Linked DNA regions of Homo sapiens: regions 2 and 3 are each linked to region 1. Evidence: fine-mapped expression QTL. A gene starts in region 1. Each other region holds a variant in brackets. All regions are shown on one strand. Distances are between the middles of the regions. Region 1 holds the start of HTR6 (5-hydroxytryptamine receptor 6). Region 2 overlaps TMCO4 (transmembrane and coiled-coil domains 4). Region 3 overlaps TMCO4 (transmembrane and coiled-coil domains 4).

What was found.
Region 2: its variant is fine-mapped to the expression of HTR6 in whole blood (INTERVAL, PIP 0.99).
Region 3: its variant is fine-mapped to the expression of HTR6 in whole blood (TOPMed, PIP above 0.99).

Annotation. Positions count from the first base shown.
Region 1 is chr1:19,662,297-19,667,508 of GRCh38, reverse strand. HTR6 (5-hydroxytryptamine receptor 6) reads right to left here and starts at 2,634. Exons shown (of 3, transcript NM_000871.3): 1 at 1,042-2,634. The coding sequence starts at 1,755. RefSeq lists enhancers at 869-1,839, 1,840-2,812 and a silencer at 2,591-2,820.
Region 2 is chr1:19,688,807-19,694,001 of GRCh38, reverse strand. All of the region lies in intron 15 of TMCO4 (transmembrane and coiled-coil domains 4), which reads left to right. Among named protein-coding and RNA genes, the nearest start is that of HTR6, 27 kb to the right of the region's middle. RefSeq lists an enhancer at 4,440-4,954. The variant C/T (reference allele first, on the strand shown) is at 2,300.
Region 3 is chr1:19,721,208-19,726,411 of GRCh38, reverse strand. The region is part of intron 13 of TMCO4 (transmembrane and coiled-coil domains 4); the gene reads left to right. Among named protein-coding and RNA genes, the nearest start is that of HTR6, 59 kb to the right of the region's middle. The variant C/T (reference allele first, on the strand shown) is at 3,258.

The DNA.
Region 1 (5,212 bases):
ATGAGGCAGAGGTTGCAGTGAGCCAAGATCGCACCACTGCCCTCCAGCCTGGGCAACAGAGCGAGACTCCGTCTCAAAAAAAACAAAAACAAAAACAAAAAAAAAAGCAAAAAAACTGATCTCAATATGTGTGACCCTCCTGGAGCTTATATTCAAGTCAGGGAGGCAAAATGAACAAGTCATTTTTATGACTTGTTCTTATGGAGAATAACAGGGATGGAGAGTGCAGATGGGCCTGCAGATAGGGTGGTCAAAGATGGCCCCTGGGAAGAAGGCAGCCGGGGGAAGAACATTCCAGGCACAGGGAACAGCAAGTGCAAAGACCTGGGCACAGAAGTAAGCCCAGTGCCTTCTAGAACCGTGAGAAAGGCCACAAGGCTGTTGCAGAGTAAGAGAGAGGGAGAGGGGAGGTGACACTGGAGAGGATGGCAGTGTGGGATCCTGAGGCCAGATCCTGAGACAGGTTTTCTTTATCTGGAGCACGGTGGGAAGCCTGAAGAGTCTGAAGCAGGGGAGTGACATGATCACTTCTTTTTTAAGTGCTCCAGCTTCTATGCAGAAGATGGAGAGTACTGGGTCTGCGGCAGAAGCAGGGGAGCCAGGAGAAGTCTACACAGCCTCCCCGGTAGGAAGTGGCAGGGGAGATGGCACCTGTTTAGAGCAGCGCCAACAGGTCTCGCTAATGAATGGCATGAGGGTGAGGGAGAAAAGTATTCCTAAGTTCCTGGCATGTGATGCCGCAATGGTGCCATTTGCCATGATGGGGAAGACCAGGGAGGCAAAGATGGGGAGAGTTGGGCCACCATAAATTCCCTGTTGTACATGGTACCTGGGAGAAGCCTGCCCCCAAATCCTGACGGAGCTATCCTGTGGTGGGTGGGTCAGGCATTGGCTCTGGAGTTCAGAAGAAAGGTGGGCGCTCACAACAGCCACGCAGGGCCATGAGCAAATGTGTGCTAAGTGGGGATGCCCAGGGGGTCCCCAGGGGCTGCTCATTCCTCTCTATCCCACAGCCCGGGTCTCCCTGCGCACCCCAGGTACCTGCAGCGTCTCCGAGGCCTGACTGGCCATGCCGGTGGTGAGGGAGGCCACCTGCACGGCCTGCTTGCGGGCAGCTAGCAGGATCCTGCAGTAGGTGAAGCATATGGCACCCGAGGGCAGGAAGAAGGTGAGGCCCGACGCCACAAGGACAAAAGGCAGGCTGGCCAGCAGGCGGCACTGGCCAGGGACGGGTGGCCGTGCGTGGCCCAGCTCGTGCCAGCCCAGCAGCAGGGGCAGGAAGGAGGCGAGAGCGGCGAGGCTCCAGGCGCCCAGGACTAGGGCCAGGGCACGCAGGGGCGTCATGCGCAGCTTGTAGCGCAGCGGCGAGAGGATGAGCAGGTAGCGGTCCAGGCTGATGAGGCAGAGGTTGAGGATGGAGGCGCTGCAGCACATCACGTCGAAGGCGGTCCAGAGCAGGCAGAGGCCGCGCGCCAGCACCCAGCGCCCGTACAGCGCGTTCAGCATGGCCGGCGGCATCACCACCAGCCCCACCATCAGGTCAGACGTGAAGAGCGACACCAGGAAGAAGTTGGACGTGTTGCGCAGCGCGGGCTGAGTGCAGATGAGCGCGATCAGCAGCGAGTTGGCCGCCGCCGTCAGCGCGATGACCACGCACAGCGCGGCCGCCACCCAGCCGCTGCCCCCCGGGGCCGACGGCGGCCCTGCCCCCCAGGCCGGGGTGCTATTGGCGGTTGGGCCCGGCTCTGGGACCATGAGGACCGAGGGTGGACGGCAAGGGAGTGATAGGGTGGCGGGAAAGCAGATGAGGGCCCCGGCGAAGCGCAGGCTGGACGGGGACCGTCCGTGAGAACAGACCGCGACTCACCACGCCCCCCGGGGGAGGTGAGTGGGGGGACATGGGCGGGGGCGCTGGGTCGCGCTAGGTCAGGGGGCAGCGACTACAGGAGGACACAGTGTGGCTATTTGGGCGCCCTCGGGGATGGGGCAGGAACTCCTGGAGCAAACGGGTTGGAAGTTTGGGGAGGGGCACCCGATGAGCCGAGGCCCCTGAAGGAAGCGGCGGGAAGTCAAGCAGAGGTCGGATGGGCTCCCTGGGGTGGGAGCAGAGCCCCCTGGAGGGGGCGGGCGGCAAGATAGGGGAGGGGCGTCCGGCCGGGTCAGAGTGCGGGGAAGTGGGAACGCGGGGAGGTGGGTGAGGGGGGTGAATGGGCGCTCTCGGGCCGGAGCAGGCTCCCCGCGGCCGGTGGGCGTGTGGGGTACCAGGGCGGGGGCCTAGGGGCCGGAGCAAAGCCGCCCCTGGGAAAGGCAGGTCTCAGCTGGCGCGGAGGCACCGGGATCCGGCGCACACGGCCTGTGCGGCGCGGGGGTTCGCCGGGGCCGCCAGGCCCCGCGGGAAGAGGAGGGCAGCGGCCGCGCGGCGCCCCCTCCCCACCCGGCAGCAGGGTCGCCTCCGTCTCCCGCCCGCACTGGTACCTGGGGCGCTCTGGCTGCTCCGCCGCCTGCGACTGCGGCAAGCGCCGCGGGGCTGCGAGAGGAAGAGGCGGCCGCGGGCCGGGCGGGCGGCGGGACCGGGTCTCCCGAGCCCGGGAGGCGCCGCGAGGGGCCCGCACGCGCGGAGGAGAGGCCGGGTGCAGCCTGGAGCGCGCGGTCCCCGCGCCGCGGAGCGTGCGCCCCGCCTCGCGGTGGGCGGGGAGAGCCGAGCCCTGGCCCTGCAGGAGGGCGGGGTCCCGGCACCCCGGGCCTGTGGGCCGAAGATCAGAGCGCCCCAGCTGCGAGGGGTCACCTCCCGGGCTGTGGCAGCCCCCACACCCTCAGATGCCCCTCCCAACCCACACGTGGCGGCGGCGCAGGCGGAACTGGGAGCAGGGGGCTGTGACCTGCCCTTATCCAGGGGCTGCTCTCTAATGGGTGCCTGCCCACTCACAACGGGGTCACCGGGCTTTCAGGGGAGCCAGGAGTTGGGAAATATTGGACAAATCGCCTGACACCCCTCTGGGCCTCAGTTGCCATATCTGTAAAATGGGTTAGTAATTCTGGGCATTCTTCACCGTTAGTTTGAGCAAGAAGCTAACCTTCCCCAGGGCCTTTCCCGCAGAAACCATCCCGATCCCCAAAGGGGCCAGGTACTAAGGATGAAGTCCCTGAGCTGTTGGCGCTCCTAGTCTAACAGAGCGTGAACAGATTTGAGAATCCCCAGGCCAGGTGTGTTAAGAGTCGCTGCAGGCAGAGGCGTGGGGTGTGGTTTCCCCTGGGTGTGACCTCCCTCTGTACGTCTCCCCTCTGGCTGAGAAGAGTCTCTGCCTAACACTGCTGTGCAGGTTAATACTGTTATTCATTCATTCATTGAACAGATACTTCAATGCATCTTTTAAGGCGCATCCACTAGATGTCAGGCACTGTTCTGACCCATCAGGACACTACAGTGGCCAAAACAAAGATCCGCACCTCCATGGAGCTTACATTCTAGTGGAAGAAACAGACAATAAACAATAAGCATAATCAACAGAGAAAGTGGGCCCAGCGAGGTGGCTCACGCCTGTAATCCCAGCACTTTGGGAGGCGGAGGTGGGCAGATCACCTGAGGTCAGGAGTTCGAGACCAGCCTGACCAACATGGTAAAACCCCGTCTCTATCAAAAATACAAAAATTAGCTGGGCGTGGTGGCGGGAGCCTGTAATCCCAGCTATTCGGGAGGCTGAGGCAGGAGAATTGCTTGAACCTGGGAGGCAGAGGTTCCAGTGAGCCAAGATTGTGCCACTGCACACTCCAGCCTGGGTGACAGAGCAAGACTCTGTCAAAAAAAAAAAAAAAAAAAAAAAAAAAAAGGAAAGAAAGAAAGAGAGAAAGGAAAGAAAGAGAAAGAAAGAAGAGAAAGAGAAAAAGAAAATGTAGTATAAAGAGAACGGGGTGGGATCATTTTTTCTCCACAGAAACAGAAAAATAATACTTTCCAAATCGAAGGCTCCTGCGCTGTCCCCAGGGGCTTTGTTGTACGGTTCCTACTCCTCCAGTTATTTATTCCGACCCCTACAATAATGCTGAGAGGTAGACGTTAAACTGGGGTTCAGAGAGGCCAAGGGCCTTGCCCCAGATCACCAGCAGCAAGTGGTGAAGTGGACCTGAAACCCAGATCTGCTCGATGCCCATGGCAAAGAGAGCCCATTACAGATGGTCAAAAACCTCCCCTCAGGCACCTCAGAGCCTGCAGCACCCACCCGCCAACTCTAAGCTGCTATTTGGTGCTCAGAGCCCCAGCCTTGCCCACAGAAGCATCTTTTAAGCAGATAGAGGAGGCCTGTCCTTCCTCCTTGCCACCACACTGCACCACTGTGACGATTTCTGCCATGCCCCCAAGGAACAGAACGTAGTACAGCAAGCCTGGGCAGAGAGTCAGAAACACATGGCTTGGGATCCCCGCTCCATCCCAGCTCTGGGATTACAGGGCCAGTGGCTCCATCTCCTTGGGTCACAGCTTTCTCTTCTGTAATAGTTAGCAGAACAATATGGCACCCACCTCACAGAGTAGCTGAGGGGATTAAATGACACTGATGTAATCTGTGTCTTTGATACTATGTTAACACTAGCTGGCCGGGCACAGTGGCTCACGCCTGTAATCCCAACACTTTGGGAGGCCAAGGCGGGCAGATCACCTGAGGTCAGGAGTTCGAGACCAGCCTGGTCAATATGATGAAACCCCGTCTCTACTAAAAATACAAAATTAGCCAGGTGTAGTGATGCACGCCCATAATCCCAGCTACTCAGGAGGCTGAGGCAGGAGAATCACTTGAACCCACAAGGCAGAGGTTGCAGTGAGCTGAGATCACACCACTGCACTCTAGCCTGGGCAAAAACAGCGAAACTCCATCTAAAAAAAAAAAAAACAAAAAAACAAAAAAACAAAAAAAAAACCTAGCTCTTGGCTTTAGTGTTCCCATCAGCACAATCGTAATGCATTCAGCTCTGTGCTAACTCCTTGAGCCCAGGGATTTCTGACGTGAACAGCTGCAACCCTGAGAGGTGCTGTGTGGAAGGATTTTGGAGCCCAGCATCCTGGGTTCATCATCCAGAGTCTGCCACTTGCTCTGTGAAGTTGTGCAAAGCCTCTTAAATTCTCTGCTGCTATGAAACCAAGGCAGTGGAGCTGTGAATGAGATGAGTAAAAAATTTTGCCTGATAAATGTTGCTTTGTAAAAATCTGTAGGTAGTGCAT
Region 2 (5,195 bases), 27 kb before region 1:
ATAGATATACAACTAGCAATTAACAGGAACAGGATTGGATTTGAACCTCCAGAGCCCTCACTCTTGCTCCTGTATTACTGCCGTTCCCCACTCCCGAGTCCCCCCCACCCAGGGCTCCCCAACAGCCCCATCTCAGCTCACTAGTCAGGACTGTATGTTTCTGCGAGAAGCAGCTGGAGCAAGCAGGGGACACAGGTGGAGGGCTTTAGGCTAGACCAAAAGCAGAAGCACCTGCCTGCTAGGCTGTGGAAAGATGGGATGCAGAGCGGGACATCTGGGGAATCTTTAAAATGCAGAGCCCAGGGCCCCACTGCCCAAAACTTCTACATCAGTCTCTAGGGGCAGAGCCATGAGTCCACATTTTAAACATACTCCTAAGGGTTCCCATGCAGCTAAAACTAGGCTGGGGTGCAGGGGCAGATGGTCAGAAAGAATTCTTGCAGTGAATGGAGTGGGAGGGCACCTGCTGGGCAGCCACACAAACCCAACTTGAATTTCTTTTCTTTTTCTTTTTGTTTTTGTTTGAGATGGGGTCTCACTCTGTTGCCCAGTCTGGAGTGCAATGGTGTGAGCTCACTGCAACCTCCACCTCCCCAGTTCAAGCCATTCTCCTGCCTCAGTGTCCCGAGTAGCGGGGATTACAGGAGCCTGCCACTATGCCCGGCTAATTTTTGTATTTTTAGTAGAGATGGGGTTTCACCATATTACTCAGGCTGGTCTTGAACTCCTGACCTCAGGTGATCTGCCTGCCTCAGCCTCCCAAAGTGCTGGGATTATAGGCATGAGCCACCGTGCCTGGCCTTTTTTTTTTTTTTTTTTTTTTTTTTTTTTTTTTTTGAGATGGGGTCTCGCTCAGGCTGGAGTGCAGTGGCACAGTCTCGGCTCACTGCAACCTCTGCCTCCCAGGCTCTAGTGATCTTCCTGCCCCAGCCTCCTGAGTAGCTGGGACCACAGGTGTGCACCACCACATCTAGCTAATTTTTTGTAGTTTTGGTAGAAACAAGATTTCACCATGTTGCCCAGGCTGGTTTTGAACCCCTGAGCTCAAGCAATCCACCCACCTTGGCCTCCCAGAGTGCTGGGATTACAGGCGTGAGCCACCGTGCCTGACCAACTTCAGTTTTTTTAGACTTGAAAGAACCTCGTTCACCTGCCACATGCTATCCTAGGGAATTAATAGCTTCCCATGTGGACACTCACTCTATGTCCCGCTCTGCCCTAAGCCTATTTATTTATTTGTTTATTTATATTTTTGAGGTGGAGTTTCACTCCTGTTGCCCAGTCTGGAGTGCAATGGCGCGATCTCGGCTCACTGCAACCTCCGCCTCCCAGGTTCAAGCGATTCTCCTGCCTCAGCCTCCCAAATAGCTGGGATTATAGGCGCCTGCCACCACGCCCATCTAATTCTTTTTTTTTTTTTTTTTTTGTATTTTTAATAGAGATATGGTTTCGCCATATTGGTCAGGCTGTTCTCAAACTCCTGACCTCAGGTGATCCACCTGCCTTGGCCTCCCAAAGTGCTGGGATTATAGGCATGAGCCACCACACCCGGCCTGCCCTAAGCCTTTTACAGACATTACTGTCCCCATTGTACAGACAAGGTCACTGAGGCTTAGAGACATTCCAGGGTCACACCGCTGAAACATGGCAAAGCAGGACTCAAACCCAGGTCTGAAGCCAATAGATGTAGCCCCAGCCCAGGTAGATATGAGAACCAGTGGGAGAGGTGCTCCATAGGGGGAGGCGGGGAGGGGAGGAATAAGGAATAAGCTGTAACTACAAGCACAAGCCGACTTCAGCAATCAGGGGACCCTGAGAACAAAATCTTTGGTTTCTAGTTATTATGTTGCTGGCTGCCATTTATCAAGTGCCAAGTGCTTCCCACATGTAACCCAGTGTATTAGTCCATTTTCACGCTGCTGATAAAGACATACCAAGACTGGGTAATTTATAAAGAAAAAGAGGTTTAATGGACTCAATTTCACGTGGCTGGGGAGGCCTCACAATCATGGCGGAAGGTGAAAGGCACGTCTTACATGGCAGCAGGCAAGACAGAGAAGAGAACCAAGTGAAAGGGGTTTCTCCTTATAAAACCATTGGATCTCAGGAGACGTATTCACTACCATGAGAACAGGTTGGGGGAAACCACCCCTATGATTCAATTATCTCCCACTGGGTCCCTCCCACAACACATAGGATTTATGAGAGTACAATTCAAGATGAGATTTGGGTGGGGACACAGTTAAACCATATCACCCAGTTTCCACTCATGGTTGTTTGAGCAGCTGCTTCCTGCAGA[C/T]AGACTAGACTCCTTTCTGGGCATCTAAAAATCCCCTGGTTTGAGGGGCATTCTGGCTTCCCCATTCAGGATCAGCAGCTGCCTGTTCTGATCACTCCACCACTGCATCTCAATGGCCAATGAAGCTAGGCCTCAGACCCACCCGTGCCACCACAGTGTGGCTCACACTGGGCTGCATGTGTTTTGAGACTTGACTGAGCATTTGATAACATGGGGGAATTATTGCACAAAAAAACAAAATCAAAACTTCACCAGGTGCTGCTGTCCATAAAGTCTGTCAGCCATGTCCCTGCCCAGAGGTCACCTGGGCCTCTCACCTGGCCTGACACCAGGTCGCTGGGGCCAGTTCACTTGTATCTTCACCCCTAAACTTCCAGGGCCTTAAGACAAAATTCCTAACCCACCAGAGGATCACAAATGAAGCCACCCTGTGCCTTCCTAACTGGGAGCTTTGGGGACTGGGGTAGAATAAGAGTCATTTCTAGGCTCATCCATTTATGAAACTGGTTGCTCCTGGTTAAAGAGTCTTCACAGGGGCCGGGTGCAGTGACTCACGCCTGTAATCCCAGCACTTTGGGAGGCCAAGGCGGGCAGATCACGAGGTCAGGAGATCGAGACCATCCTGGCTAACACAGTGAAACTCCGTCTCTACTAAAAATACAAAAAATTAGCCAGGTGTGGCGGTGGGCACCTGTAGTCCCAGCTACTCGGGAGGCTGAGGCAGGAGAATGGCATGACCCCAGGAGGTGGAGCTTGCAGTGAGCCGAGAGGGTACCACTGCACTCCAGCCTAGGTGACAGAGCAAGACTCTGTTTCAAAAAAAAAAAAAAAAAAAAGAGTCTTCACAGATAGACTTGGCTCACATGCTGTAAACCTCGCAACTCCCTAGAGGAGGTATTAAGCATCCCCAGATCATAGATTGGGAAACTGAGACTTGGGAGCATGGAGTCATAGCCAGAGTTGTAGGTCTGGACTCTGAGCCCAGCTTGGAAGCTGTGCTGCCCACTTCTCTGTGGGAATGAGGTAAGCTGAGTCACAAGACCAGCAAACCACAGTGACAGGAATTTTCTCTCAGCCCCTTGGCCACACTTGCAGCAGGGGCACCCCATCTACTCGGTCCACCACACTCAGCCCCTTGCAGGAGGAAGCACATGAATGAGCAAGTGTGGGCTCTGGCTGACCACTCCAAACACCGACACAAGAGCAAGCTCCATGCTGGGCCTGTGGCCAGACCAGGCGTGTTGCCTCGAGGGGAAAGTGGCAGCACCTGGGCAGGGGTACCCACAACCCTGAAGCCCCAGAGGGGGCGTTAGTGTGCTAATTAGCTGTTTTAGTTCCACCATTGACGGCCCAATAGACGGTGGTGTATTAACAGCTCAGTCGGCCCCTGACCCCATCACGTGGGGCAGCTGCCCTCCACTGATGAGGGCAAAAGGCCAGTATGACAGCCTTTCTGGGTACCCACACTCAGTGGGTCCCAAGCTCTTGTCCAGCATCCAAGAAGAATGAGGACACGCTGATAATTGAAGAGTGAGCAAGGCGAGGAGTTTTATTGAGTGATGAAACAGCTTTTTGCAGAGAGGGGATGAGTGGATGGTTCCCCTACCCAAAGGCAGGAAAGTCCCCACAATGTGGCTGAGTCTGGGGCTTTTATGGGCTCAGAATAGGGGAAGTGTGGGCAAACAGGAACAGAAGTTCTCACTCTGGGTCACAGGTTTCATGTGGGACCAGCAGTCCAGTCTTTCAGCCTTCAGGCTGTTTTTTTGGCTTGAAGGTGGGGTTTCACCAGGGACCCACCCCGTCTGCCTAGGCATTTGGCTGCCTCCTGTCACCATCAACAGGGCTCAGAGCTGATGCCTCCTGACCCATGTCCAGGGCTCTCTGTCCTATTCAAGGTGCCTGCACCCTGAATGGGGTGAAAGGGAGCAGGGACTTTGTGCCTCAGCACCCCAGGAGTCTCCCTTTGCCAGAAGAATCAGAGATAAAAAGCATCTGCTGAAGAAAGTAGCTTTTAATGCTGCAAAGCCCTCACAAGATCTGATTTCTACTGGGAATGGGATATGGTAGGAAGAGCACAGCCTTTGGCACCAGAGAGGCATGGCTTAGAATCCTGGCTCTGCCACTGGTTTACTGGCTGTGTGACCTTGGGCCAGTTACTTAACCTCTCTGTGTCTCAGTGTCCTCATCTAGGAAATGGTGGAAACGCCTAACTTCCAGGGCAGCGCATGTAAGATGCTTGGTGCATAGTAGGCCCTCCTTTAATCCTAGTCCCTCCCGGCCTGCCCCTGCCACCACCCCCAGTTTGTTTGCCTCTGGGACCAGCAGTTTTGGAGACTCCGCTCCCTCCTCAGGCTGTCTTCGTGGCAGCTTCCCAGCTCCTGCCTAATAATAGCTCTTTATCACATTAGGAGTACATCACAAAAAACAGTGCTTTCCTCTTCTGGGTAATTAGAGGTAATTAGCACTGCCTTTGTGCTGGCCTCCTGTTTTCCTTGAAAATGCTTTGCTGGAGAAGTTGCTGGCAAGGGAGGTTTCATTACTGCTGTTGGGGAAATGCTGGCCACCCTCTGCTCCCAACAGAGACCCACAGGACCTGTCTTCTCCCTGCTGGGCCAACCACGCAGCAGGGCCCTTTGTGATCATCCCACTGGGCTGGCCCTGTTGCAGGCAGGGCGCATCTCTGGGGTGAATGAAGCTGCCCTCCTGCCCCTCAGTCTCTCCTCACAGGGACAAGGTTACAGTGGGTGGGGGATTTGCCACCCCAGGGACCAACTCATGAGGCTTCTGGGGCACAGAGATCCAACCCACGGCAAGATTCTCCATGTCCCAGCAGAAATGCCAGGTGGCCTAGAACTTAGCAAAAGGCTTGGCACAAAGTAGATACTTGATAATAACC
Region 3 (5,204 bases), 59 kb before region 1:
GCTCACTGCAACCTCCACCTCCCAGGTTTAAGCTCAGAGAGCCGAAGGGATTTGCCCAGAGTCAGAGCTGGAAGGTGGCCGAGCCAGGCATCACACCCAGGGCCATCACCCACACCTGGGTCATGGCACTGTGTTCAGCTGCCTCCCTGCTCCCTCTCAGTGCTTTGCCCATCTTTGTTTCCAAGCTCACCACGTTGGGTTACAATGCATCTGCCCACAGGTCTCTCTCCCCTGCTAGAATGTGGCTGATGCTTAAAGGGAAAACACACACTCACGATCACCAGGCACTGTCTGTTTTGTCCCCTCTGTGTCACCAGCCCCTGGCTCAGGCCTTGGCATGTAGAGGTGCCCAGTACATGTTAGGAGCTGATTCACTCGTGAGGGACACAAAGGCAGCCATGAAGTTTGCTGTGAGGGCTTCTTGCAGGGGACCATGCTCGAGGCCTTTGGGTGCGGCAAGGCTCGAACTGCCTTGGCAAAGTGGACTCCTCAGCCCCCAAGGCCTGGGCCAGCTGGTTGATCTATTGCCCAGACTTCCCAGTGACCACGCTGTGCTCGGCCCGCTCCATTCCAGACTGTCCATCGGGCTTGATCGGCTGGCACACACACACAGCCTGGGTAACGACTCTGCCCACTCAAAACCAAGACAAAACATGCACCTGCCAAATGATTGTGCCTTTGGTCAGGAAACCAGCATAGTCAGAATTCCTAGCAATGAACAATCCCCCTCTAGCAACAGTCCAAGTCCCAGCATAGGGCATGAATTTGCTTTGGGAGTGACTGACCCTGTCCCCAAGGGTATTTCTGACCCCAGTGCGTGCCAAGGGCAGGGAGGTGGTGCCTGCTGCCAGGAACAGCCAGCATCTGAGCACTCACTATGGGACCCTGGGCCCTGATCACAAGGGGGCATTCATCTTTTCTATATTTTTGCTTTTAAAAGTCTTTGAAAAATTAAGTAGTTGGAAAGCAAACTCAATTCCAACTGACTTGTAGTAGCTGGCTGAGCTGAGAAATGGCCATAGGAAATCAATTGCTGCTTCAGGTTATTTATGCATTTATTCTCCTCTGCATCCAAAAGGCTTTGAAGGGAATTAATTCAACATATTGCATATTGCCTGTGACCTGTGGGCCTGTCCATGCAGTTGACAAGACACGCTGAGCTGAGCCAGCCTGCCTGCAGGTGTCTTCATTCAGCACCATAGAGGCTGCAGGACCTGCTTCACTCTGGGCCCTAGGGTCCATTAGTCAATCCTGGCTTCCCCATCTGTTTGCCATCTGTAAGCGGGCTCAATTTGATCACTTTTCCTAGTGTCTTCAAGATGCAAGGATCATTGCAACCAGCTGAGAATGACATGAAAGAAGGAGCACTCACACCTGTAATCCCAGCACTTTGGGAGGCCGAGGCGGGTGCATCACGAGGTCAGGAGATTGAGACCATCCTGGCCAACATGGTGAAACCCCGTCTCTACTTAAAATACAAAAATTAGCTGGGTATTGTGGTGTGCGCCTGTAGTCCCAGCTACTCAGGAGGCTGAGGCAGGAGAATTGCTTGAACCTGGGAGGCGGAGGTTGCAGTGAGCAGAGATTGTGCCACTGCACTCCAGCCTGGGTGACAGAGCAAGACTCCATCTCAAAAAAGAAAAAAGAAAAACAAAAGAAGGAGCACTGAACTTAGAGTCTAGAAACATCAGTTCAAACCCAGACTCCACTAGTTACTGTCTGGGTACCCTTGGGCAAGTCACTTCACCTGTCTGGGCTTCAGACTAATTAGTAAAATTGGGATATTGATCCCTCTGGGGGTTATTCTAGGATTTAATAACTACCATTTATTGAACACCTACTATATGCCAAGTGATATGCTAAGGGCTTTGCCTGTTTTCCCTCATCTAATATACAAACAACTCTAAGATATAGTTATTGATTTTCCCATTTTGCCTATAAGGAGATTGATGGCAGGGACTGTGTCCATTTCATTCTGCCCTCTGTCATCGGCACCTAGCATGGGACTTGGCACAGCAAAGAGCTGCAGCAATTTACAAATAGTGAACCTGGGTTCAACTCCAGCCTGTCCAACCACAAAGCTGGCCTTTTTATATGGTGGATGTAACAGCACAATGCTTGGCACATAGTAGACTCCCAACAAGTAAGTGTTCCTTTCTTATTCTCCATTAGTTTATCCAAATGGATTTTTCCAAGGCTATGGTACTCACTGTCTCTGAGCTCACTAATGTAGCAGTAATGTCTTTAGCCCAACTGGCAGCTCTCAGGGGAGTGAGTTACAGAAGTGGGATTCATTTAATCTGTGCTTTAATCTAAACTAAAGGCCGACCAGCCCCCAGGCTCTTTCCAAGACTCTTAGCCTGCCGACTGCCTTTCAAAGACATTTGCTTCCCTCTGGGAATGCAGGCACCCTTGACCTTAGCAGTTGCCACCGGCTAAAATGCATTTGATCTCACCTTGAATGTGGGTTGTCTCTGTTATTTAAAGAAGGCAGGAATTTGGGGGCTTGCTCCAGCCTCGCCTCTGGGGTCAGACCTCTCTGCTTCACTGTTAACCCACAGGGCATTGTCACCAGGTGACCCGCTTCACCCTCCTCTCACAGATTGGCCACCAGCCCCCATTGTCTACTAGATAAATCCACTTAGCTTCCAGGGCCCCAGCTCAGAGCTGGAAGAGCCTCCAGAAATCACATTGTCCAAACCTTCAATTTACAGGTGAGGAAAGGAGACCAAGAGGGTCTGCACCCTGAAACGCAGTGATGATTGGTGTTGGTGTTGGAAGTTGGTTGCTGTGACTGGAGGAATCCAGAAATGCCCAAATACTAGCCTTGGAAATTACTTCCTTCTTCCCACAGGGTCCCTGAGAGAGCTGAGCATGCAGACTTTAGCTACATGATGACTGGGGCACCCATCACTTCAACGCCACCTAAGCTAGGACCCAGTAACCCCCAGGGAAGAAGCTGTGCTGGTCACACAGCAGGCTCAGCCACCCAAAAGCTCCAGCCCTGGATCTGGGGGCCTATGGGGTCCTGGCCAGTGGCATCGAAGGAGAAAGGAGGCAGGAAGACAAAGAAGAGACTATCCCCCATATGAGATGAATACAAGTTGGGCATCCCAAATCCAAAAATTCAAAATCCAAAATGCTCCAGATTCCAAAACTTTTTGAGCAGCAACATGATACTCCGAGGAAATGCTCAATGCAGCATTTCAGATTTTCGGATTTGGGATGCTCAACCAATAAGAATAATGCAAATATTC[C/T]AAAATCTGAAATCCAAAATACTTCTGGTCCCACGCATTTCAGATAAGGGCCAGAGAGAGAGAAGGTGGCCCTAACCTCCTCCAGCGACTTGCCTTGCTCAGAGGAGGGAGGAGAGCCTGCAGTCCGGCTTCCTGATGTACAGCAACCTGCCCACTAGTACATGTGTCCCATCAGTGTCCTCACGCTTGACTAATGAGGCCAGCACCCCCTCTTCCCATAGGAGCAATAGGAGGAGGCCTGGGAAGAAGGTGGGCAGAGAGAAACACAGGCACGGAAGGAGGAGAGGCTGAGGATCACAGTGTTCCTGCCGCTGACACTGGATGCACCCCCCAGCCCCCTTGCCCCAGGGTCAGAGCTTGTGCCAGACATCCCACCACCTCCAGACCAGCAGCGCTCCCTTGGAACCAGGGAAACCCTTGTACAAAAGTGCCCCAGGGGTTCTTTCTTCCAGGACTGTGTCTCCCTAGCCTGTCTTTCCTACCACCTGCTGTAGCCATTTGCAGACACACTTTCTACTCCTAAACTATAAAGTATATGCAGAGTAAAGAGTTGGGTGCTCATAATTACCCAGAAGGCCACAATTCTCCATGCCATGAGGTTAAGATCATGGGAACGGTATGACCCTGTGCAAGTCCCCTACATTCTTCAAGTTTTCCTTATTATTAATGTAGATCAAACGATACCCACCTCTTAAGGAAAATAAAATAGCGCATCTAAGCTCTTAGCACAGAGCCTGGCACATAGTACATACTGAGTGATTGGCTAAGACTGTTGTACAGTAGGTGGCTTGCAGCCTTGAGAGCATTGACTCCTGTAAAGGGCACTTAACACTCAGTTGAAGGATAATGATCCAGAAGGCACTGCTAGAACATCTTATCGAGGCTGATATGCTGGGCCTCATTTCATTCTTTCGTCCCATGAGCATGTGATTGTGGACTCCTAGACTCAGGGTTCCAAAAGACGTTTGAAATCGTCTGGTTCAAACAAACCTCCACACTGTACAGGATCCCCTTGACATCATCCATCTGTCTACTAGCCTCTGCTTAGTTGCTTCTAGTGATAGGAAACGGACTACTCTGCGAAGGGTAGTAAGTCAGGAATTTAGAGGACTGATCAATTTAATCATGGAGTCAGTTGCTTGTAAATTGTGAAACATCAAGCCCTGCCCAGAGAATCTGTTAAGGCTATTGGTGTTTGAATGTGCAATGAGATGAGCCATGTCCAGGGAGGCCGCTGGCCCCTCAGATAGAGTCCCAAGGTTAGTAGTACCTGGAAGGTCAGTATATTTCCAGGTTTGGCCCTGGACTTTTCCAAAACGTGTGTGTGTGTGTGTTGTGTTTTGTTTTGTTTTGTTTTGTTTTGTTTGAGACAGGGTCTCCCTCTGTCACCCAGGCTGGAGTGCGGTGGCACAATTTCAACTCACTGCAGCCTCTTTCCCCTGGGCCCAAGCCATCCTCCCACCTCAGCCTCCCAAGTAGCTGGGACTACAGGCATGTGCCACCATGCCTGACTCATTTTTGCATTTTTTGAAGAGACAGGGTTTCGCCATGTTGCCTAGACTGGTCTCGAACTCCTGAGCTTGAGCGATCCACTCACCTCGGCCTCCCAAAGTGCTAGGATTACAGGCATGAGCCCCCGCGCCTGGCCACTAAATATAATTTTTATCTATTTTGCACCCAGAGCTGAGCAGTCCCACTAGGAAAACTCACAGGAGACAGTGTTGCAAACTGAATCCTGCTTTCTCGAGGTCCAGCACTAACTGCCACTCTCAAGCAATGGAGCACGTGCCCACACTGTCTGCCTAAGCTCCAGGGAAACAAATTCTCTGCTGAAGTTTCTGTGGTGAGCACAGGTGTATATGGAGAGAATAGTCTGCAGGAGCGTATCTTTTCCTGGCCCTCACAGTGAGCCCTGATGGCTGTCTGAGTCTCAGAAGGAGATCCCCT